Homo sapiens: one gene and its partners. The protein of the gene in region 1 purifies or fractionates together with the protein of each later gene. This does not show direct contact. Each region holds a gene or a part of one and is shown on either strand. Other genes may lie near its edges. The genes, in order: FBXO11, CEP72, TXN, SYNPO, RBX1, LONP1 and NDRG2.

What was found.
Region 2: the proteins of FBXO11 (region 1) and CEP72 purify together in Homo sapiens (co-immunoprecipitation; one large-scale study listed by IntAct). This does not show direct contact.
Region 3: the proteins of FBXO11 (region 1) and TXN purify together in Homo sapiens (affinity purification with mass spectrometry; 2 studies listed by BioGRID and IntAct, with this or other methods). This does not show direct contact.
Region 4: the proteins of FBXO11 (region 1) and SYNPO purify together in Homo sapiens (co-immunoprecipitation; one large-scale study listed by IntAct). This does not show direct contact.
Region 5: the proteins of FBXO11 (region 1) and RBX1 purify together in Homo sapiens (co-immunoprecipitation; 4 studies listed by BioGRID and IntAct, with this or other methods). This does not show direct contact.
Region 6: the proteins of FBXO11 (region 1) and LONP1 purify together in Homo sapiens (co-immunoprecipitation; 2 studies listed by BioGRID and IntAct, with this or other methods). This does not show direct contact.
Region 7: the proteins of FBXO11 (region 1) and NDRG2 purify together in Homo sapiens (affinity purification with western blotting; one study listed by BioGRID). This does not show direct contact.

Annotation. Positions count from the first base shown.
Region 1 is NC_000002.12:47,836,999-47,840,498, forward strand, and holds part of FBXO11 (F-box only protein 11), read right to left. Parts: intron 2,772-3,500; coding exon 2,644-2,771; intron 2,503-2,643; coding exon 2,421-2,502; intron 2,006-2,420; coding exon 1,861-2,005; intron 1-1,860. UniProt on the Homo sapiens protein: Substrate recognition component of a SCF (SKP1-CUL1-F-box protein) E3 ubiquitin-protein ligase complex which mediates the ubiquitination and subsequent proteasomal degradation of target proteins, such as DTL/CDT2, BCL6, SNAI1 and PRDM1/BLIMP1.
Region 2 is NC_000005.10:629,340-632,839, reverse strand, and holds part of CEP72 (centrosomal protein of 72 kDa), read right to left. Parts: intron 1-3,500. UniProt on the Homo sapiens protein: Involved in the recruitment of key centrosomal proteins to the centrosome.
Region 3 is NC_000009.12:110,246,508-110,250,007, forward strand, and holds part of TXN (thioredoxin), read right to left. Parts: intron 1-3,500. UniProt on the Homo sapiens protein: Participates in various redox reactions through the reversible oxidation of its active center dithiol to a disulfide and catalyzes dithiol-disulfide exchange reactions.
Region 4 is NC_000005.10:150,643,660-150,647,159, reverse strand, and holds part of SYNPO (synaptopodin), read right to left. Parts: intron 1-3,500. UniProt on the Homo sapiens protein: Actin-associated protein that may play a role in modulating actin-based shape and motility of dendritic spines and renal podocyte foot processes.
Region 5 is NC_000022.11:40,968,378-40,971,093, reverse strand, and holds part of RBX1 (E3 ubiquitin-protein ligase RBX1), read right to left. Parts: intron 1-2,716. UniProt on the Homo sapiens protein: E3 ubiquitin ligase component of multiple cullin-RING-based E3 ubiquitin-protein ligase (CRLs) complexes which mediate the ubiquitination and subsequent proteasomal degradation of target proteins, including proteins involved in cell cycle progression, signal transduction, transcription and transcription-coupled nucleotide excision repair.
Region 6 is NC_000019.10:5,693,741-5,696,146, forward strand, and holds part of LONP1 (lon protease homolog, mitochondrial isoform 1 precursor), read right to left. Parts: coding exon 2,314-2,406; intron 1,162-2,313; coding exon 1,021-1,161; intron 813-1,020; coding exon 647-812; intron 30-646; coding exon 1-29. UniProt on the Homo sapiens protein: ATP-dependent serine protease that mediates the selective degradation of misfolded, unassembled or oxidatively damaged polypeptides as well as certain short-lived regulatory proteins in the mitochondrial matrix.
Region 7 is NC_000014.9:21,016,272-21,019,166, forward strand, and holds the end of NDRG2 (protein NDRG2), read right to left. Parts: intron 2,890-2,895; coding exon 2,845-2,889; intron 2,544-2,844; coding exon 2,492-2,543; intron 2,393-2,491; coding exon of another isoform or gene 2,356-2,392; intron 2,251-2,355; coding exon of another isoform or gene 2,234-2,250; coding exon 2,186-2,233; intron 1,969-2,185; coding exon 1,933-1,968; intron 1,768-1,932; coding exon 1,716-1,767; intron 1,492-1,715; coding exon 1,325-1,491; 3' UTR 501-1,324; downstream 1-500. UniProt on the Homo sapiens protein: Contributes to the regulation of the Wnt signaling pathway. Down-regulates CTNNB1-mediated transcriptional activation of target genes, such as CCND1, and may thereby act as tumor suppressor. May be involved in dendritic cell and neuron differentiation.

The DNA of each region.
Region 1 (3,500 bases):
AAGTGCTGGGATTATAGGCGTGAGCCACTTCGCCTAGCCTAAAAAGATAATTTTCAGTAAAAATACTTTGAACTTAATTTGTCCTATATCTTCAGTCCATTTATATCCTATCAAGCACAATGAAATCTTCAAACTGGAGTAATGGCTAACTATTATCATTTCTGGTACAGTGAGCAATGCTGTTTTGTTCTGCTGCTCTTCATTCTCATTTCTCCTTTGTAATTTTTCTCTTAAATGTAAGGTGTGGGCCGGGCACAGTGGCCCATGCCTGTAATCCCAGCACTTTGGGAGGCCCAGGCAGGAGGATCACCTGAGGTCAGGAGTTCAAGACCAGCCTAGCCAACATGGTGAAACCCTGTCTCTACTAAAAATACAAAAAATAGCTGGGCATGGTGGGAGGTGCCTGTAATCCCAGCTACTCAGGAGGCTGAGGCAGGAGAATTGCTTGAACCCGGGAGGCAGAGGTTGCAGTGAGTCAAGATTGTGCCACTGCACTCTAGCCTGGGCAACAAGAACGAAACTCCGTCAAAAACAACAACAAAAACATATATATATATGGTGCACCTTTTGTGCATCATAAAAGTAATACATATAACCGTTGTAAAACAAAGAAGTGTAAAGAACTATAGTTTCAATATATTAACTATTAACAGTCTGCCATATTTGCTTCCACTCATTTTATCTACAGATCATTTATTATAGTTGTGATTATATAGCATATACAATTTTGTACTCTGTTCTTTTCTTTAAAAAACAGGGTCTCCGTCTGCCGCCCAGGCTGCAGTGCAGTGGCACGATCACGGCTTTCTGCAGCCTTGACTTCCTGGGCTCAAATGATCCTCCTGCCTCAGCCTCCGGAGTAGCTGGGACCACAGGCAGGAGCCACCACACCTGGCCTCTTTTCACTTTTTATAACAGCATTTTTTTCATCTTATTAAAAACCTGGGCTGGGTGCAATGGCTCATGCCTATAATCCCAGCACTTTGGGCGGCCGAGGTAGAAGGATCACTTGACCCCAGGAGTTCAAGATCAGACTGAGTAACAGAGTGAGACCCTTTGTCTCAAAAAAAAAAAAAAAAAAAAAATTAGCTGGGCATGGTGACACATGCCTGTGGTGCCAGCTACTCAGGAGGCTGAGGTGGGAGAATGGCTTGAGCCCAGAGGGTTGAGGCTGCAGTGAGCTAGGAGCGTGACACTGCACTCCAGCCTGGGTGACAGAGCAAGACCCTGTCTCTCAAAAAACAAATGAAAATCTCTTTGTAAAAATTACTATTAGTGGTTATATCACAACTCTCCAAGTACACATTACACAGTTTATGTAGTTCATTCCCTTAATTCTGGATATTTAGATTATTTATAATTTTTCTCATTATTAACTAGGCTGTTACGAAAAATCTGTACATAAAGCAAAAAAAACTTTTCAGAAGTAGAATTACTGGGTCAAAGGGCATGACCCAGTAATTACTGGGTCAAAGGGCATGAATTATTTAAAGATTCATGAATACAACTGTTTTCCAAAAGTGATATATAAAACCTACATTCTAATCTATCAGATTTAAAATTCATTAGCTATTTTAAATTACACTGTTATGTTTCTAAAAAGCTACTAAAAGAAAAACATTTCCCATAATCAATCAGTTGCTATTAACTGATAAACAGCAGATAAAAGACTTCATTTACTGATTTATAAATACCACCTGGACTGACAGCCCCCATTTGTAACTTGGAATTGATAAGCATTTTAATTTTGTTCCAACTAATTGTAACTACCAACTCACCGCACCGACTTTCCTACCATGTTTAGCATTTTGGGCAACAAATAACATATCTCAAGTTAATAAGGAATAGGTTTTTACTTACCACAAAATTGGATCATTAGCAAGTTCACTGAAGCGTTTACATACACAAGCTGCTCTACAAAGATCCTGTTCCAGCAAGTAAGAGAAGATTTTTAGAACCACTTCATCTGGCAGTTTCTCCTGAAGATACTGTTCAGCAGGTGCTGCTATAAAGAGATTAACATATAAACTATCATTCGAGCAATAACTTTCTCATTATTTAAAGAACACAGTTTTCATTTTATCTAATGAATAGCTTTTTTTTTTTGGATAATGGTCATTTTATAAGCATGTGGGTTTCATGGGTAACACATATTTATCTCTATCCTGAACTAACAAAAGTACTCCTTCTTTTAGGTATTATGTGCCATCTCAGAAATGGTTAAAATAAATACATAAAAAGCATTTTTATACAACAATAAAAGTCAGAGGGAGAGGTCAGGGTTCTAAAGTTTATTCTGTAATAATCACTTTCTGAATCCCAAAGGTAATACTCGAATACACTTAATTTTCATTTTTTGGTATCAAGCAAAATTAAAAAAAATTATTTTACCCTATTTGTTACTTTCCCACAGGAAATACCTGATAGATCTTGTGATTTTCCAGACACTCTTGCACGTTTTGCACGATGACCAAAGTTTTCTGTAGTTGAAGTTGAGGCGCCCTTCAAAAACAAAACAGAAACTAGTAAAGCAAATATTCTTATCATCCATAATCATTACTTCTAAAAAAGGATGACATTCCCTTTTTTGTTTCTTGAAAATTCTTTCATTACAAAAAGAAAAGCAACTACAGTTAAAGTTACCTCCATACTGTTCTTTGTGGGACACGCTGTTCTTTTCGGCAAAAGAGTTTTTCTACGAAGTTGGTATGGACTATTTTGTGCACCAGGACCTGATTCTTCTGCAACCATATCTGCAGGCACATCATCATCTGTTATAAACAAAAGCAATAAGAAAAATTATACCCTTTTTAAAAAAAGTTCTATGGATACAGAAAACTTTCTTAAAACTTCAAATTCGGGAGGGAGCAGATGTAAGTTTTATATGAAATTCCAACCAACTGGATAGCTATATGAAAGAAATGTTAGATTTCTATAAAATGTGGAAGATTTTTTTTTTTTTTGAGACAGAGTCTCGCTCTGTCGCCCAGGCTGGAGTGCAGTGGCGCAATCTCGGCTCACTGCAAGCTCCGCCTCCTGGGTTCACGCCTTTCTCCTGCCTCAGCCTCCCGAGTAGCTGGGACTACAGGCGCCCGCCACCACGCCCAGCTAATTTTTTGTATTTTTAGTAAAGATGGGGTTTCATCGTGGTAGCCAGGATGGTCTTGATCTCCTGACCTCGTGATCCACTCACCTCGGCCTCCCAAAGTGCTGGGATTACAGGCGTGAGCCACCACGCCCAGCCGTGGAAGACTTTTTTTTAAAAAAAGGTGAGGAGGATATCCACTTGCTGAGAGGAGTGGGAAGGGAACTGGTACTACATGGTTAGAGACCATATATGGTGAAGGCAGCTTGGCAAGGAGTGTGTCTATGAAGAGGAACGGCTCAATATAGTGCATGAGATACCAGGTAGGTTAAAAAGGGTGTCAGAGGGTAGTCTGGTGTATGAACATCTTTTTTTTTTTTTTTTGGAGATAGGGTCTCATTCTGTCACCCAGGCT
Region 2 (3,500 bases), on another chromosome or scaffold:
CTGGACAGAACCCCACCAGGACTGGGCCAAATCCCGGCGCTGGACAGAACCCCACCAGGACTGGGTCAAATCCCGGCACTGGATAGAACCCCACCAGGACTGGGCCAAATCCCGGCACTGGATAGAACCCCACCAGGACTGGGTCAAATCCCGGCACTGGACAGAACCCCACCAGGACTGGTCTAAATCCCGGCACTGGACAGAACCCCACCAGGACTGGGCCAAATCCCGGCACTGGACAGAACCCCACCAGGACTGGGTCAAATCCCGGCACTGGACAGAACCCCACCAGGACTGGGCCAAATCCCGGCGCTGGACAGAACCCCACCAGGACTGGGCCAAATCCCGGCGCTGGACAGAACCCCACCAGGACTGGGCCAAATCCCGGCACTGGACAGAACCCCACCAGGACTGGGTCAAATCCCAGCACTGGACAGAACCCCACCAGGACTGGTCTAAATCCCGGCACTGGACAGCACCCCACCAGGACTGGGTCAAATCCCGACACTGGACAGAACCCCACCAGGACTGGGTCAAATCCCAGCACTGGACAGAACCCCACCAGGACTGGTCTAAATCCCGGCACTGGACAGCACCCCACCAGGACTGGGTCAAATCCCGACACTGGACAGAACCCCACCAGGACTGGTCCAAATCCCGGCGCTGGACAGAACCCCACCAGGACTGGGCCAAATCCCGGCGCTGGACAGAACCCCACCAGGACTGGTCTAAATCCCGGCACTGGACAGAACCCCACCAGGACTGGGCCAAATCCCGGCACTGGACAGAACCCCACTAGGACTGGGTCAAATCCCAGCACTGGACAGAACCCCACCAGGACTGGGCCAAATCCCGGCGCTGGACAGAACCCCACCAGGACTGGGCCAAATCCCGGCGCTGGACAGAACCCCACCAGGACTGGGCCAAATCCCGGCACTGGACAGAACCCCACCAGGACTGGGTCAAATCCAGCACTGGACAGAACCCCACCAGGACTGGTCTAAATCCCGGCACTGGACAGAACCCCACCAGGACTGGGCCAAATCCCGGCACTGGACAGAACCCCACCAGGACTGGTCTAAATCCCGGCACTGGACAGCACCCCACCAGGACTGGGTCAAATCCAGCACTGGACAGAACCCCACCAGGACTGGTCTAAATCCCGGCACTGGACAGAACCCCACCAGGACTGGGCCAAATCCCGGCACTGGACAGAACCCCACCAGGACTGGTCCAAATCCCGGCACTGGACAGAACCCCACCAGAACTGGTCCAAATCCCGGCACTGGACAGAACCCCACCAGGACTGGTCCAAATCCCGGCGCTGGACAGAACCCCACCAGGACTGGTCCAAATCCCGGCGCTGGACAGAACCCCACCAGGACTGGTCCAAATCCCGGCGCTGGACAGAACCCCACCAGGACTGGGCCAAATCCCGGCGCTGGACAGAACCCCACCAGGACTGGGTCAAATCCCGGCACTGGATAGAACCCCACCAGGACTGGGCCAAATCCCGGCACTGGACAGAACCCCACCAGGACTGGGTCAAATCCCGGCACTGGACAGAACCCCACCAGGACTGGTCTAAATCCCGGCACTGGACAGAACCCCACCAGGACTGGGCCAAATCCCGGCACTGGACAGAACCCCACCAGGACTGGGTCAAATCCCGGCACTGGACAGAACCCCACCAGGACTGGGCCAAATCCCGGCGCTGGACAGAACCCCACCAGGACTGGGCCAAATCCCGGCGCTGGACAGAACCCCACCAGGACTGGGCCAAATCCCGGCGCTGGACAGAACCCCACCAGGACTGGGTCAAATCCAGCACTGGACAGAACCCCACCAGGACTGGGTCAAATCCCGGCACTGGACAGAACCCCACCAGGACTGGGCCAAATCCCGGCACTGGACAGAACCCCACCAGGACTGGTCTAAATCCCGGCACTGGACAGAACCCCACCAGGACTGGGTCAAATCCCGGCACTGGACAGAACCCCACCAGGACTGGGCCAAATCCCGGCACTGGATAGAACCCCACCAGGACTGGGTCAAATCCCGGCACTGGACAGAACCCCACCAGGACTGGTCTAAATCCCGGCACTGGACAGAACCCCACCAGGACTGGGCCAAATCCCGGCACTGGACAGAACCCCACCAGGACTGGGTCAAATCCCGGCACTGGACAGAACCCCACCAGGACTGGGCCAAATCCCGGCGCTGGACAGAACCCCACCAGGACTGGGCCAAATCCCGGCGCTGGACAGAACCCCACCAGGACTGGGCCAAATCCCGGCACTGGACAGAACCCCACCAGGACTGGGTCAAATCCCGGCACTGGACAGAACCCCACCAGGACTGGGCCAAATCCCGGCACTGGACAGAACCCCACCAGGACTGGGTCAAATCCCGGCACTGGACAGAACCCCACCAGGACTTGGGTCAAATCCCGGCACTGGACAGAACCCCACCAGGACTGGGCCAAATCCCGGCACTGGACAGAACCCCACCAGGACTGGGTCAAATCCCGGCACTGGACAGAACCCCACCAGGACTGGGCCAAATCCCGGCGCTGGACAGAACCCCACCAGGACTGGGCCAAATCCCGGCGCTGGACAGAACCCCACCAGGACTGGGCCAAATCCCGGCGCTGGACAGAACCCCACCAGGACTGGGCCAAATCCCGGCACTGGACAGAACCCCACCAGGACTGGGTCAAATCCCAGCACTGGACAGAACCCCACCAGGACTGGTCTAAATCCCGGCACTGGACAGCACCCCACCAGGACTGGGTCAAATCCCGACACTGGACAGAACCCCACCAGGACTGGGTCAAATCCCAGCACTGGACAGAACCCCACCAGGACTGGTCTAAATCCCGGCACTGGACAGCACCCCACCAGGACTGGGTCAAATCCCGACACTGGACAGAACCCCACCAGGACTGGGCCAAATCCCGGCGCTGGACAGAACCCCACCAGGACTGGGCCAAATCCCGGCGCTGGACAGAACCCCACCAGGACTGGGCCAAATCCCGGCACTGGACAGAACCCCACCAGGACTGGGCCAAATCCCGGCACTGGACAGAACCCCACCAGGACTGAGTCAAATCCCGGCACTGGACAGAACCCCACCAGGACTGGGCCAAATCCCGGCACTGGACAGAACCCCACCAGGACTGGGTCAAATCCCGGCACTGGACAGAACCCCACCAGGACTGGGCCAAATCCCGGCACTGGACAGAACCCCACCAGGACTGGGCCAAATCCCGGCACTGGACAGAACCCCACCAGGACTGGTCCAAATCCCGGCACTGGACAGAACCCCACCAGGACTGGTCCAAATCCCGGCACTGGACAGAACCCCACCAGGACTGGGTCAAATCCCGGCACTGGACAGAATCCCACCAGGACTGGTCCAAATCCCGGCACTGGACAGAACCCCACTAGGATTGGTTCAAAAATTAAAGTTCTGGAAGATTCTGTTCTGCTATGTGATTA
Region 3 (3,500 bases), on another chromosome or scaffold:
AAAAGAGGACTGGGAAAGAAATATAGAACCACTCAGCACCTAAGCAGCAAAAGCTACACAGGACAGCAAGCGAGCAGGCAGGACTGTTGATAACCAAATCACGGAAACCAACGGAGAATTCTCAAGGGGAAGAAAGGCCAGCTACAAACACTATGACGACCTCTAGGATGGTGGGTGGCACTACTGTTGAGGAGTTCTTTCTAGGTAATCTTTACTTTTTCTTTTAATGCTGGACACCTGCTGAGCATGAAAGTACAGGTTCCAGTAAGAGGCACAAGGACAGTAATGGCTGGAATAAAAATGGTGAATGTTTATTGAATGCATACTATTGAAAACTCACTCCAAGTAAGGGTCAGAGGGAGGTTACCATTTATAAAATAAGTATCATAACCCTGTTGGCTGTCAGAGAAATAAGGTTGGTCTATCATTTTCAAAAGGGCTACTACTCATACTTTTCTATCAATCTATGGAGGCAAAGTTAAAGTTCCTCAGTTTGTCAGAGGGTCACTTCAAGGTTTTAAAAGACACTTTCAGGCCAGGCACGGTAGCTCATGCCTCTAATCCCAGCACTTTGGGAGGCCAAGACGGGTGGATCACTTGAGGTGAGGAGTTCGAGACCAGCCTGGCCAACATGGCAAAATGCTGTCTCTACTAAAAAGTTGAAATTTAGCCTGGTGTGGTAGCGGCTGCCTGTAGTCCCAGCTACTCAGGAGGCTGAGGCAGAAGAATCGCTTGAACCCGGGAGGTGGAGGTTGCAGTGAGCAGAGATGGTACCACTGCACTCCAGCCTGGGTGACAGAGTGAGACTCTGTCTCAAAAAAAAAAAAAAAAAAGATACATTCAGGGTGATCAGGGTGCACCAAGCAGACATGAAGGAGGAGCTCTGTCATACGGAAGTCCTCGAGTGCTTTGCACACCTATAGTAATGCACCATATAACATTTAGATCGACAACAGATTGCATATATGTGGTGGTCCCATAAGATTATAATGAAGTTGAAAAATTCCTCTCACCTAGTGATGGGTTAATGTCATAGCCCATCGCATTAGCTGGTGCAAACAAATCTGCGCTGCAATTACATACAAAGTATACCACTACAGACTGCTTTACCTGCGGAATAGCCATTCTTTTGTTCCTTTACTTTCTTAATAAACTTGCTTTCACTTAAAAAAGCATATCACTACAATTATGGACAGTATATACTACTTGATAATAAACACCCACGTTACTGGTTTTTGTATTTACTTTAATTTCATTATTAATTTAGAGTGTACTCCTACTTATTTTTTTAAAAAGACAGTTACTATACAACAGGCTCAGGCAGGCCCTTCAGGAAGCATTCCAGGAGAAGGCACTGTTATCATAGGAGATGAAAGGTCCATGCATGTTACTGTCCCTGAAGACCTTTCTGTGAGACAAGATGTGGGGATGGGAGACAGTGATACTGATGATCCTGACCCTGTGTTGGTCTAGGCTAATGTATGTGTTTGAATCTTAGTTTGTAACAAAAAGTTTAAAAAGTCTTTTTAAAAAAAGCTTATAGACTAAGGATATAAAGAAAATATTTTTGTAGAGCTGTACAATGCATTCGTGTTTTAAGCTAAGTGTTATTACAAGAGTTAAAGAGTTAAAAAAATAAAAAAACTATAAAGTAAAAAAGTTACAATAAATTTATTGCTGAAAAAAGAAATTTTAAAAATAAAATTTGTAAGCATACAGTGTTTATAACGTCTACAGGTTCTAGGCCTTCACATTCACTCACCACCCACTCACTGACTCGCCCAGAGCACCTCTCAGTCCTGCAAGTCCCGTTTATGGCAAGTACCTTATAAAGGCATACCATTTTTTAATCTTTCATATCATGTTTTCACCATACCTTTTCTATGTTTAGATACACAAATACTTACTGTTGTGTTATAACTGCCTACAGTATTCAGTACAGTAACATGCCTTACCTGTTTGTGGCCTAGGAGCAACAGGCTTTACCACATAGCCTAGGTGTACAGGAGGCTATGCCATCTAGGTTGTGTAAGTACACTCTATGTGTGCACAACAAAATTGCCTAACATTTCTCAGAAAGTATCCTCATCATTAAGTGATGCATGACTGTACTTCCTAAAGGCAGTAAGAAGACCTGTCCTCAGTACAGTATGGTGCATTGGTCTGCCTCAAGAGACTGACTTTACCTTCTGTGCTGCAGTGCCATTACCTGTTCAATGAGGGTGCTAATAAAAAATACTCGTATAGTTATCGTGAGGATTAAATGACATAGTGCATGCAAAGGGCTTATCATGGCATCTGGCACCTATTATTGCTTTCAAATAAAAATCAAGGCCGGGCGTGGTGGATAATCCCAGCACTTTGGGAGGCCGAGGTGGGTGGATCACCTGAAGTCAGGAGTTCGAGACCAGCCTGACCAACATGGTGAAACCCCGTCTCTACTGGGGTTTTAATTTTGTAAAAATACAAAATTAGCCAGGCATGGTGGTGCATGCCTGTAATCCCAGCTACCCAGGAGGCTGAGACAGAGGATTGCTTAAACCCGGGAGGCAGAGGTTGCAGTGAGCCGAGATCATGCCACTGCACTCCACCCCAGGTGACAGAGTGAACTCCATCTCAAAAAAAAAAAAAAAAAAAAAAAAAAAAAAAAAATCAAGTTGCTATCTGATAGGATCAGTGGCAGTTAGAATTTCTCTATTCCAGGTGCAATTTTCCCCTAGCTAAATTGACCTTAATAAGACTAAGTTTGATTAAAACAAGGGATAAGGATTTTTCACAAAAATGCAATTACACTCTTTTTAAAAAAAAAAAAACAACTCTGGGACACATCTAGAATAGTAACTTAACAACCATATCACATTCATCATTCATTCATTCCACACCTATACTACATGCAAGGCAGGTGTGCTAGGTGAAGGGGCAACCAACGTGAATTAAGACAGGGTCTCTGATCCTAGGAATCTACTGAGACTAATGGTAAAGGACAGACATAAAGATCATTATAATAATTGCCAAGATTCACTGGGTACTTAGGGCACACAAGGCGGTAAGTGGAGAAGGGGTGAAGCTCATGACAAGGAGTTAGTCAGGTAGGAAAGGAAAGGACAGGCCAGATGGAGAAGACAGCACAAGCCAAGGCAGGGGTTGCCCAAGGCACAGAGTCAAAAACTGGCTAAGAATACACAATCTGGGGTTGTTGCGCCCTCCCATGTTTAGAGAGCACTGCCATATGCCTGTTTTAAGTGACCCTTCACCCTTTATTGGATATTCCATGTTTGCTCAATGAATAAGCAACCTTGGGAGGTTGATGGGGCAGGTCTTAAGGCTCAAGGAAGAGGAGTGACTGGCCTAAGCAGATGCTAGTGAGCCAGGACTGGAAGCCAGGTCCAGCGCCTCTGTTGCCACACTGCACCCTTCCCCCATCGCCTTTCCTTCTCCACTAGGGCTAAGTGAAAATGCTCACATATCTGTAAAGGGCCCCGAAGTGATACCTCCTCAAC
Region 4 (3,500 bases), on another chromosome or scaffold:
GTGATTCTCCTGCCTCAGCCTCCCGAGTAGCTGGGACTACAGGCATGTGCCACCATGCCCGGCTAATTTTTGTATTTTTAGTAGAGATGGGGTTTCACCATGTAGGCCAGGCTGGTCTCGAACTCCTGACCTCAGGTGATCCACCCGCCTCGGCCTCCCAAAGTGCTGGGATTACAGGCGTGAGCCACCGTGCCCGGCCACCTGACTTGTTTATCACTCTAACAACAGCCCCTAGAACAGCACCTGTCATACAGTGGCACTCGGTAGATATTGCTGAATGCACAAATGAACCCCCAGAATATTTTCTGTGTGCCTTCCTTAGGGCCCTTTATACTTTCAGAATTATAGCATAGGAATGTGCTCTAATTTTTTTAAACAAAAATGTTTTAATAAACCACCGTCTGCTTTTTTTAATTTGTATTTATTTATTTTTTTGAGACAGTACCTTACTCTGTCACCCAGGCTGGAGTGCAATGATGAGATCTCAGCTCATTGCAGCCTCGACATCCTGGGATCAAGTGATTCTCCTGCCTCAGCTCCCCAAGTAGCTGGGACTACAGATGTATGCCACCATGCTCAGCTAATTTTTGTATTTTTTTTTGTAGAGACAGGGTTTCACCATGTTGCTTAGGCTGGTCTCAAACTCAGGTGGGCGCAAGTGATCCGCCCACCTCAGTCTCTCAAAGTGCTGGGATTACAGGCATGTGCTTTGATTTTATAAAGAGACGCCACTAATATTTCCCCTTTTTAGGGTAGGTAATACATTCACATAGTCTAAAAATTTATTTATTCATTCATTTTTATTTTATTTTTACTTTTCTGAGACAGGGTCTTGCTCTGTTGCCCAGGCTGGCATGCAGTGGCACCATCATAGCTCACTGCAGCCTCAACCTCCTGGGCTCAAGTCATCCTCCCACCTCGGCCTCCCAAATATCTGGACTATCGGTGTGCGCCACCACACTTAGCCAATTTTTTTTTTTTTTTGTATTTTTTGTAGAGAAGGGGTCTCCCTGTGTTGCCCAGGCTGGTCTCAAACTCCTGGGCCCAAGTGATACTCTGGCCTTGGCTTCCTAAAATGCTGAGATTATAGGCATGAGCCACTATACCTGGCCCTAAAAATTAAAACATAAAAAGGTATACAGTAAAAAGTGTCACCCCATCCCTGATTACTCTGTATCACAATCAGTTTCTTCTATCTCCTCCCAGGATTTCTTCCTAGTTTTACTTAAATACTCATTTTAAAATTCACATCTTTTAACACTAGAAAAGTAACAAATTGAGCTAGTTTCACCAATGACTACTGTAGAACATTGCATTCTTTTATTTTATCTGCACAAGACCACAATGAGACAAGCATTGCTTGCCTGTGTTTTACAGAAGAAGAAACGGAGGTTCAGAGATATATAAGGAACTGCCCCAAGGTTGCAAAGCCAAGGGTGACAAAGCTGGAGTCAGAACTGTTCTTTCTGGGGTCTCTAGTCCATGCTCAAGTGGTCTACTCATCCCAAAAGGTCTCTTTGGGACATAAGGGGCAGGAACAAGGTCATCATGGGTCGGGGTTCAGTCTGGGATTTGAGGTCCTGAGATCAGGCTGAGTTCAGTCCCCTATTAATCTATAAGATCACCATAGGCAACCATTTCTCTTTCTATCCCCAGTGGCCAGCTGGCACACAGTTGATGCTCAATTTATAATTGTTGAATAATAAATGAACAAATGCTGCATGAACAAATGCATTGACAGACAGGTGGATGGATCAGCCTGTGACCAGCAACATCAGTGGCTAAGAAAATTCCTCCCTCCATTGCCCCTCTCCTCCCTACTGTGGGAAGCTAATTAGTTCTTGAGGAATCTGACCCTGCCCTCCCCTCCCTTGCCCTCATTAGCACTGGCCATGGCATGCTGAGTCTGTCTCCAGGGACAGTCTTTCCAGGCATCTTGCCAGCGAGGCTCTGAATTCATGGACTCTCAGAGCTGGAAGAATTCTGACAGAGGAGGTATTTCATCACCACCCTGTTTTATAGGTGGGAAACAGAGATCCAGAGAGTAGCCCAGGGTAGAGCCGGGTGACCCCACATGGGACCCGCAGGGAGGCCCACACAGAGCAAAGAAGCTGTGACCAGCAGCGTCACAGCAGCTCCACTGGGGCAGCCACAGGTTTTCTGGCCCCAACCTCCTTCTTCCCTCCTCCATCGAACCTGGTTTTCCCCTAACCTATTAGAAACAGTGAAAGCACACAGCCTATCCCACCCACCCATGATATTACTCCCCCCGAGTAGGACTCTTCTCCTGCCTGGATCACCCTATCTATTAAAGATGTCTATTAGCCATCTATTAGCCAGGCTGCTCCCCTGGGAGGAGCCTAAGGGATGGGGTGCCAGCCACACTGGAGGGCTCTGAGAGGTTGCTCAGCTCATGCTGTGTCTGTCTCCCCTGCTCTGCTTAGAAACCAGGCCTCCTGGCCTGAATCCAAGCTCTGCCATTTGCTAGCCGTGTGACCTTGGCAAGTTACTGTACCTCTCAGAGCCACAGTCTCCTTAACTTGACATGAGTGTTGGGAGGCCACAAAGAGATCATGAAAATGCCAAGGCCTGACTGCCATGAAGCCCAGGTGGACAGACAGAGGGCTCATGCTATCCTGGCATAAGCTGGCAATTGGTCACCCCATTCCACTCCCTGGAAAAGGTCAGATACTCTTCTAGCACAGGGGATTGACTGAAGGTCAAATAGCAGGAGATTCCAGAGCTACACGGAGGCAGAGCTTACTGCCCCAAAACACAGAACCTCGGAATCTCAGAGGTGGCTGTCACCAAGTCCAATTCCCACACAATTCTTGCATCTTCAAAACAACATGCTGAGTGTGCAAGTCTCTGCTGACATACTCAGGTGACGAGCTCACTCCCCCGGGAGGTGTCTTCCACTAATTAACATTCCTCAGCTAGAAAGTTCCTCCTTACATTCACTTCCAATCACTTTTTTTTTTTTTTTTTTCTGAGACAGGGTCTTGCTCTGTCGCTGGAGGGCAGTGGCACCATCATGGTTCACTGTAGCCTCAACCTTCCAGGATCAAGTAATCCTCCCACCTCAGCCTCCTGAGTAACTGGGACTATAGGCATATGCCACTATGCCTGGCTAATTTTTGTATTTTTTGTAGAGACAGGATTTCACTATGTTGCCCAGGCTGATCTTGAACTCCTGAGCTCAAGTGATCCACCCACCTCAGCCTCCCAAAGTGCTGGGATTACAGGCGTGAGCCACCACGTCCAGCCATCATCCGCTTTCTTGATGTGGTTCTGCCTCCCCAGGCTGCACAGAGAAAAAGTCTTCTCAGCCGGGCGCGGTGGCTCGCGCCTGTAATCCTAGCATTTTGGGGGGCCAAGGCAGGTGGATCACGAGGTCAGGAGTTCGAGACCAGCCTGGCCAATATGGTGAAACCCCATCTCTACTAAAAATACAAAAATTAGCCAAGCGTGGTGGCGGGCGCCTGTAATCCCAGCTACTT
Region 5 (2,716 bases), on another chromosome or scaffold:
TGCTGTAGGGCAGAGCCAATTACAAAGGCCCCCTGAAAACTATGAAAAGTCCTCTGCCTTGACATGTATTCCTGTTATGGTTCCCTGTAGAATGCAAGCTCCAAGGGCAGGAAGGACCGTCTCAAATGTTTTTATATTTTACACGGTACTTAGCATATATTTTGCTGAAGGGAGCCCAACAGTACCACTCAGATACTGAGTATTTGGCAGGTTTCTTAAAAACTGAATACGCATTGATAAGACTTCCAAATGTTTTACCAAAATAAATTATTGAATTTAAAGGCAAAATCACTGCACCAATAATGGATTTCTAAACATTTCACAAACAAAAGAATCCTATTTTTTGGTTTTTTTAAACCCAAGAATAGCCTAATAAAGACGTATTTAAATTAAGAAACTCCTTTCCCGTAAAAAATTCAGTAAAGAAAATGACCAATAATTCAAAATAAAGCAACGTGCAGGAAGATAAACACAGCAGTTCACAGAAAAGCGTAAGAGATATAAAAACATGAACAATTGCCCAATCTTACTGAAAATTCAAAAATGAAAATCGAATACTGATTGTCACCTATCAGAGTGGCTAAGATGGAAAAACTGTATAATGAAGCACTGGCAGGAAATGAAGAAAGGGGAGTTCTGCTTCACTGTTTGGAGGGAGTATAAATTAGTGTGTATTCTTAGAAATGGAAAACCTGACACTATTTATCAAAAACAAAAATATACATTCCTTTTTTTTTTTTTTTGAGACGAAGTTTTGCTCTTTTGCCCCGGCTGATGTGGCGTGATCTCAGCTCACTGAAACCTCTGGGCTCCCGGGTTCAAGAGATGATTCTCCTGCCTCAGCCTCCCAAATAGCTGGGATTATAGGCACCACCATGCCTGGCTAATTTTTGTATTTTTAGTAGAGAGGGGGTTTCACCATGTTGGCCAGGCTGGTCTTGAACTCCTGACCTCAGGTGATCCACCCACCTCAGCCTCCTAAAGTGCTAGGATGACAGGTGTGAGCAACTACACCTGGGCTTTTTTTTTTTTTTTTTTTTAAATTGGGTCTATTACCTAGGCTGGAGTGCAGTGGCATGATCTCAGCTTACTGCAACCTCCGCCTCCTGGGCTCAAGCGATCCTCCCACCTCAGCCTCCAGAGCAGCTGGGACTACAAGTGCATGGCACCACATCCAGCTAATTTTCTTTCTTTTTTTTTTTTTTGAGATAGGGTCTCACTCTGTCATTTAGACTGGAGTGCAGTGGCACGATCTCTGCTCACTGCAACCTCTGCCTCCCAGGCTCAAGTGATTCTCCTGCCTCAGCCTCTGGAGTAACTGGGATTCCAGGCATGCACCACTACCGCCCAGCTAATTTTTGTATTTTTTAAAGTAGAGACGGGGTTTTACCATGTGGGCCAGGCTGGTCTCAAACTCCTGACCTCAAATGATCCACCTGCCTCAACCTGCCAAAGTGCTGGGATTACAGGCATGAGCCATCAGGCATGGCCTAATTTACTATTTTTTGGTAGAGATGGGGTTTCAACATGTTACCAGGCTGGTCTCGAACTAGTGGACTCAAGCAATCTGCCCACCTTGGCCTCCTAAAGTGTTGGGATCACAGGTGTGAGCCACCAAGCCCAGCCATACTCTTTACCCATAAATTCCTCTTTTAGGAATTACTGCTCCAGATACAGCTACACATTTACACAAAGCTTCATGTATAAGGATGTTTCTCCCTTCACATTGCTTGCATCAGTGAAAAACTGGAAACACAAATGTCCACCAATAGGGACTGACTTTGTTTTTTGAGATGGAGTTTCGCTCTTGTTGGAGTGCGATGGTGCGATCTCAGCCCACCACAATCTCCGCCTCCTGGGTTCAAGTATTCTCCTGCCTCAGCCTCCCAAGTAGCTGGGATTACAGGTATGTGCCCCCACGCCCAGCTGATTTTGCATTTTTAGTAGAGACGGGGTTTCTCCATGTTGGCCAGGCTGGCCTTGAACACCCAACCTCAGGTGATCCGCCTGCCTCGGCCTCCCAAAGTGCTGGGATTACAGGCGTGAGCCACCGTGCCTGGCCAGGGACTGACTTTTTAAAAAATATAAAAAATGTTAAAAACATGCAAACAAATAAAAAAAGAAAAGAAAAAAGTTAAGGTACATTTACATAAAGAAATACTCTGCAACCATTAGAAATGAGGTAGTTTGTTATTTGTGGAAATGGAAAATCTCCAAAATGTACAAAATGAAAAAAAAAAAAAAGGTGAATTACTGTATAGGATACTCACTTTTATGTTAACAAAAATATATATATACACACAACCATGTAAATACCGGGACATATAAGAGATAGTCAGAAAATCTCCTAAGAAGCTGTCCTGTTGCTGATGGCTAGCTCCAGCAAGCCGGAGCAGGGGCCTACAGTGGGAAATTCATATTCTGTGGTATACCCTTTCAACCATTTAAATTTTTAAAAGTTTACCAGGTCATGTTTTATTTATATAACAATAAAATCTAATCAGGATAGCCATAAATGCTATATCAGAATTAATCACTGTGAAATAAACCAGTGAAATATGATAAGTGGATACAAGTCTAGCCCAAAGCTACCTGACATTAGGTAGTCCATGGAGCCTCATTAGGATGTAATTCTGGAAATATTTAAGAGTTCATAGATTATCACATTTTCTACTTTCACAGACCGTAGAAGGTTGGGAAACCTGCCGGGCACGGT
Region 6 (2,406 bases), on another chromosome or scaffold:
GGATGTCTCCACAAACAGCGTGGAGCCTCCTGAAACAGGTGTGGAGCTGTGAACACGGGAGGCCTCGGAGCCCAGGCCGGTGCTCACTCCACCCCTCGGGGCCACTCTGACCGCTCCTGCCCCAGTTTAGCATCTTGGTGCCCCTGGGCAGGGGTTGGTGTCCCATCGTGAGCCAACGCTGGCCTCTACGTTTGCTGCGTTGCGGGTTCCTGGCTCTGTACGCCCCACAGGGCAGCCCCCAGCAGCTGCCAGCCACAGAGGACACGCCCAGGGCTACAAGGCCCAGCTGCCGCTGCCCTGCAGACAGACACAAGCCCTTCTCCAGCCCCTCCCGCACCATCCCCTTTGCCCTCTCGCCTCCTTTGTGCGTGGTGGCCCCAAGGCCCATCTGGATGAGCTTGTCCTTACCTGTAAGCCTATCAAAGTGGCACCCAAATCCATAAGGCCCATGGTGTGCTGCCACCCCCATGTGTCACAGCCTTCCCCTCCCTCAGCCCAGACCCCCTGGGCTCCCAGCACACCACCCCCCGCCAGAGGCCGTTCAGAGCCACCTGAGGCCCACTGCACAGGTGTACAAGGTGGGACCTGCTTGTTCTCGGGTAGAAATGGGAATGGCTTTGGGGTCTTCTCCCGCCACCACGCTCACCCATTGCGGTCCAGGCCAGCCCCATGACCACGCCGGGCGGTGTCACGTCATACATGCGCTCCACGGTGAACACGGGCTTCCCCACGAAGTCCTGCAGGTTCTCGGGCGTCACCTCCACGGACTCGGCCTCGCCGCTGACAATCTTGTAGGCCGATTTCCGTAACACCTGGGCGGTCAGGGCAACACAATGGGCACGGGAAGGTGGGGTGACAGGTGCGGGGTGGTGGGGTGACGGGCACAGAAAGGTGTGACGGGCGCGGGGTGGTGGGGTGATGGGCGCAGGAAAGTGGGATGATGGGCATGGAAAGGTGGGGTGATCAGCGTGGGATGGTGAGGTGGGCGGCAGGTGCCAGGAGGGCGGGCTGGCCGCTCACCTTCTCCACTTGCTTCTGCAGGTTGCGGACACCGCTCTCGCGGCAGTACTGCTTGATGAGCAGCGTCAGCACGTCCGATGACAGCTTGGCCTTGCTCTCATCCAAGCCACACAGGGCGCGAGCCTGGGGCACCAGGTAGCGCTGCAAGGGCAACCGTCAGGGTTGGGTCTGGAGGGACCTTGCCCACCAGCTCAGTCTAGAACCTGGGAGCCAATGCCTCTCCCATGGCCCCCAGACCCTGGCCTGGGAACGAGGTCCCTGATGGTGAAACCAGGGCCTGGACACCCCGCCCTGCCACCCACCATGCCCAGAGGCCCCAGGCCTTTGCTTGTGCTGCGTCCTCTGCTTGGATCCACTTCCTATCCCCCAATGGTATCTTAGATGCCGCTTCCTCCAGGAAGGCCTCCTGGTTGCCCCATGGGCTGGCCCCATACACAGACCCAGGGCCTGTAGGGTGGCTGACTGGTTACGTGGCTGCTGCCCTCAGCACATGAGGAAGGGGACTGGGTCAGGGGCTCCAGGGTCACCCACAGCCCCACACAATTCTTGCCACAGTTCTGAGCTCTAATGGCATGGGGGAGGGCATCTGTGAGACGGACAGAGCCATGCAAGCCACTCTACATCTGCCACTGATACTGGGGGGCACTCCTGATGCCCTGAGGGGTCCCCATGCCCCCCAGTCCTGTCCCCAGGAACTACAGGCCCGTCCCTTGGAGAAGTCAGGCTGGGAACTGGGCCCAGCAGTGGGCATTGAAGCCCCCAGGGGACACGAGGATGCTGGGAGGGCCTCAAGGGCAGGGACCAGTGCCCACCACTGGCTGTCAAAGGGCTCCTAGGGGAGAAATGCACTCAGCACCTTTGCAGAAAAAAAAACACATGAGAAATATGGGCCCCTGCATGCTCCTCACTGAAACCACTTCTCCTCCAAGCCTCATTCTGGGTGGGAGCCACAGGCCCCACTGCTTCCGGCTGCCAGAAACCTTCCCTACACTCTGGGCCAGGTGGGGGCCCCACCATGGGGCAGCCTGGAGGCCCCGGGAGACAGAGTGTGTGGCCTGACGGTGGTGGGCGGTGTTTTGGACAGTCCCAGGCCCTAAACCCTGCGCCCACTCGCGCCACCTGCAGCTGCTCGCAAGCGTCTGGTGTGTCTCTCACGGCCCCATCTGCTCCTCGGCCGCAGGTCCCACCTGTCTCTCCCGGGCCCAGGAGCTCCCAGAGGCACGGCCTCTGCAGGCTCTGGGGGGCGCCCCCTGCTCTGGGAAGGGGACAGCAGTGGGGAGGGGCTGGGCTTACCTCCGCAATGGCCAGCTTCTCCTGGGCCACGTAGCCCGACACGTTGATCATCTCCATACGGTCTCGCAGCGGCTCGGGGATGGTGTCCGTGAC
Region 7 (2,895 bases), on another chromosome or scaffold:
AGCTGGGACTACAGGTGTGCACCATCAAGCCCAGCTAATTTTTGTATTTTTTGCAGAGACGGGGTTTCACCATGTTCCCCAGGCTGGTCACAAACTTCTGAGCTCAAGTGGTCTGCCCACCTCAGCTTCTCAAGTGTGTTGGGATCACAGATGCGAGCCACCTTGCCCAGCCTCTTCAATTCTTTCTTAAAGGTGGTGATGTTGGTGGTATCTCTGAAATCCTGTGGCCTTTCTCAGTTACCCATAGTTGATAAGGAAGTCTCCTAAGATCTAAATGGTTCCTCTCTCCCAGGCTTAAAAATACTACAATATCAAGGCAACACCGTTGTATTGGAAAAGAGCCAGTTTCTATGTGGTCATATTTTGTGAAGTGCCTATGCCACAAAGGCCCTCTCCCAGGGTTTATATCACTTTGAGAAGAGAATATGAGACGTGGACAGGGAGAAGATAGGAAGAGGAGCATGATGCAGGCACACCTAGACAAAGAATAATAACGGTACTCAGATTCCTCTACAGTTTATTGTTATAGCAGAAGTTGTGGGAGACGGGAGGGCACCCTCCACACATACTACAGTGTGGTCAGAGCCCCAGGGTAGCCCTTTCCACCCTATGCCAAGCCCCAAGCAGCCCAGCCCAAGCTTAGCTCCCTCCCCAGTCCCACTCTAGATGCACACTGAGCTACCAAAGTTAGTGCAGCCAAACGGCCCCAGGCCCCTTCCTGTTGCCCCAGCACCAATCCTTCCCCACACTCGTTCACTGCCCGCCAACTCCCATTCCAACTTCCTTTTTACACTGGATGTTTCTATCACATCCTGAGGACCACTAACCCACCAGCAAGTCTCCCCCTGACACACATTCACGTAGGTCCATACCCTTCAGAGTCCTAAAGGGTTAATGAGAAGCCACCTCAGCTTTGGTGAATGGAGCCCCAGCCCCAAATCCCCTCCCCTTGCAAATATGGGACAAGTAGGGAGAGTCTGATGGAGGCACCAGGACAACTACAACAACCTCTTACCCCTCAGCTATAGACACCTAGATCAGGACAGAGGATGCATATGCCCTCTCCACCTTAACATCAAAATGGGGGAGGAGGAGAATTTAGGGGTCTGGGTCCCTAAGAGATATTAGGACATCTCTTCCAGGAGCTGGGGGGAATCACGGGTTAAAGGTCAAGGTTAGGGTAGCAATCAAAGATCAAGGTCATCTCCCCGCATGATCTGCCCTTTTTCCCTTGCTTACGGTGGCCCAATGCCCCTTCAGCACCTCCCAGGTTAGCTCTGGGGGAGGTGAGGGCTGGGTCCCACTCTAGGGCAACAAGGGCCATTCAACAGGAGACCTCCATGGTGTGCCCCGGGGGCCCCGAAGAAAGAGTTCCAGACTCGCTGCTCTGGGACAGGGTGCGAGAGCGGGACCGGTTGCCATCAACGGATGCTGCACTGGTCAGAGAGGCTGTACGAGACCGGGACAGGCGAGTCATGCAGGATGAGGCCACTGTGGAGACAGCACGATGCACAAGCAGTCAGAGAGGAAGTGGGGAAGGGGGGCTGGCGACTCAGGGTGTGGTCCTTGGATTATGGACTAGTTATAACTAAGCCAGGGGATCAACGAGCTCGATTGGGCAGATAGCGGTGAGTCCAGGCATTCACCTAAAACGGTTCCACCCCGTCAGTGCCTATCTCTCCTCTAGTGCAGCAAGCTCTTGTCCCGATACTCACTGTAGCCCATGCCTTGCAGGAAGTACTTGAAGGCCTCGGTCAGCTTGCCTGGCTGCGGAAGTAAGAAGAGGCGAGGGAGACGGTGAGATGAGGTTAGAGGAAGAGCTGGAGCCTGAGGCTGCGGCACTGTGGGGCCGGGTGTGTGGCAAAGGGCAGAGCCCAGTGCCACCGGTATCCTATGTCCCTTCCCCATCCCATGGACGGCAGCGGCACTCACCTGAGTCAGCTGGGGCTGACCTCCGGAGTCAGCCATCTGTTCAGGAGAGCACCACCCAGAAAAAGTGAAACACACATAAATGAGCCATGCAGAGAGGTGGAAAGGGTCTCTCTTCCCTAGCTTCTTCACTCTAGCCCCTTTGTTTTGTTCTTCGTTCACCCCATTTGCTCCCATGCCGGGCCCTGGAGGCTTAGCAGCTGCATGTAGAGAGGATATATGACTGTGGACGGGGGCCCAGGAACAGGTTACTGACCTTGAGGAACGAGGTCTGGGTGGGGTCCAGTTTTGAGTTACATTCCACCTGGAGTAAGCAGGAGGCTGAATGAATGAGGTCACGCCCACTGTGGCGCCTCCCCCGTAAGGGACCCAGGAACCCAGACCCCAGTCCCTTTTCTATCAGCTCCCTACCCAGTTCCTCCTTACCAGGAATCAAATTCTTAGTGCCCCAAAGTTGATCTCCCTGTGCCAAACAGGACATCCCCTTGGCAAGATACTCTTCTGACCACCACTTTAGGACCCCAACCCTCCTCCCTCACTCACCCCAAAATTCCCTACTAACCACTGCATCTTCATGAGGTGCTTGGTCTCCTACCACCAGCATCACAGGACACCTAAAGACACAGTGTTGGGGAGAAGGCAGTGAGCCCCTGGCACTCCCTCACTGGCCTCTGCCTAGGAGTGCAGCTGGAAAAATATCTGGCTCCAAAGAGGAAAGACACTTCTGTGTCTCCCTGCTGATGCCACCAAGAGGATTCAAAGGGGGAAGACCTAGAGGGAAGTGATTTACCAAATAGGATGGGGTGGGACATGACAAGGAAGTTCCCTGGCAAAAGATTCTCCTTCTTCTAAGGGACACAAGCTCCTAGGGAAGATCCAGGGAGACAGGCAATGCATTATCTCTTAAAGTCTTACCTGAGGGTGATATCACCTCCACGCTCAAAGTTCAGGTCTCGGCGGCTAGAA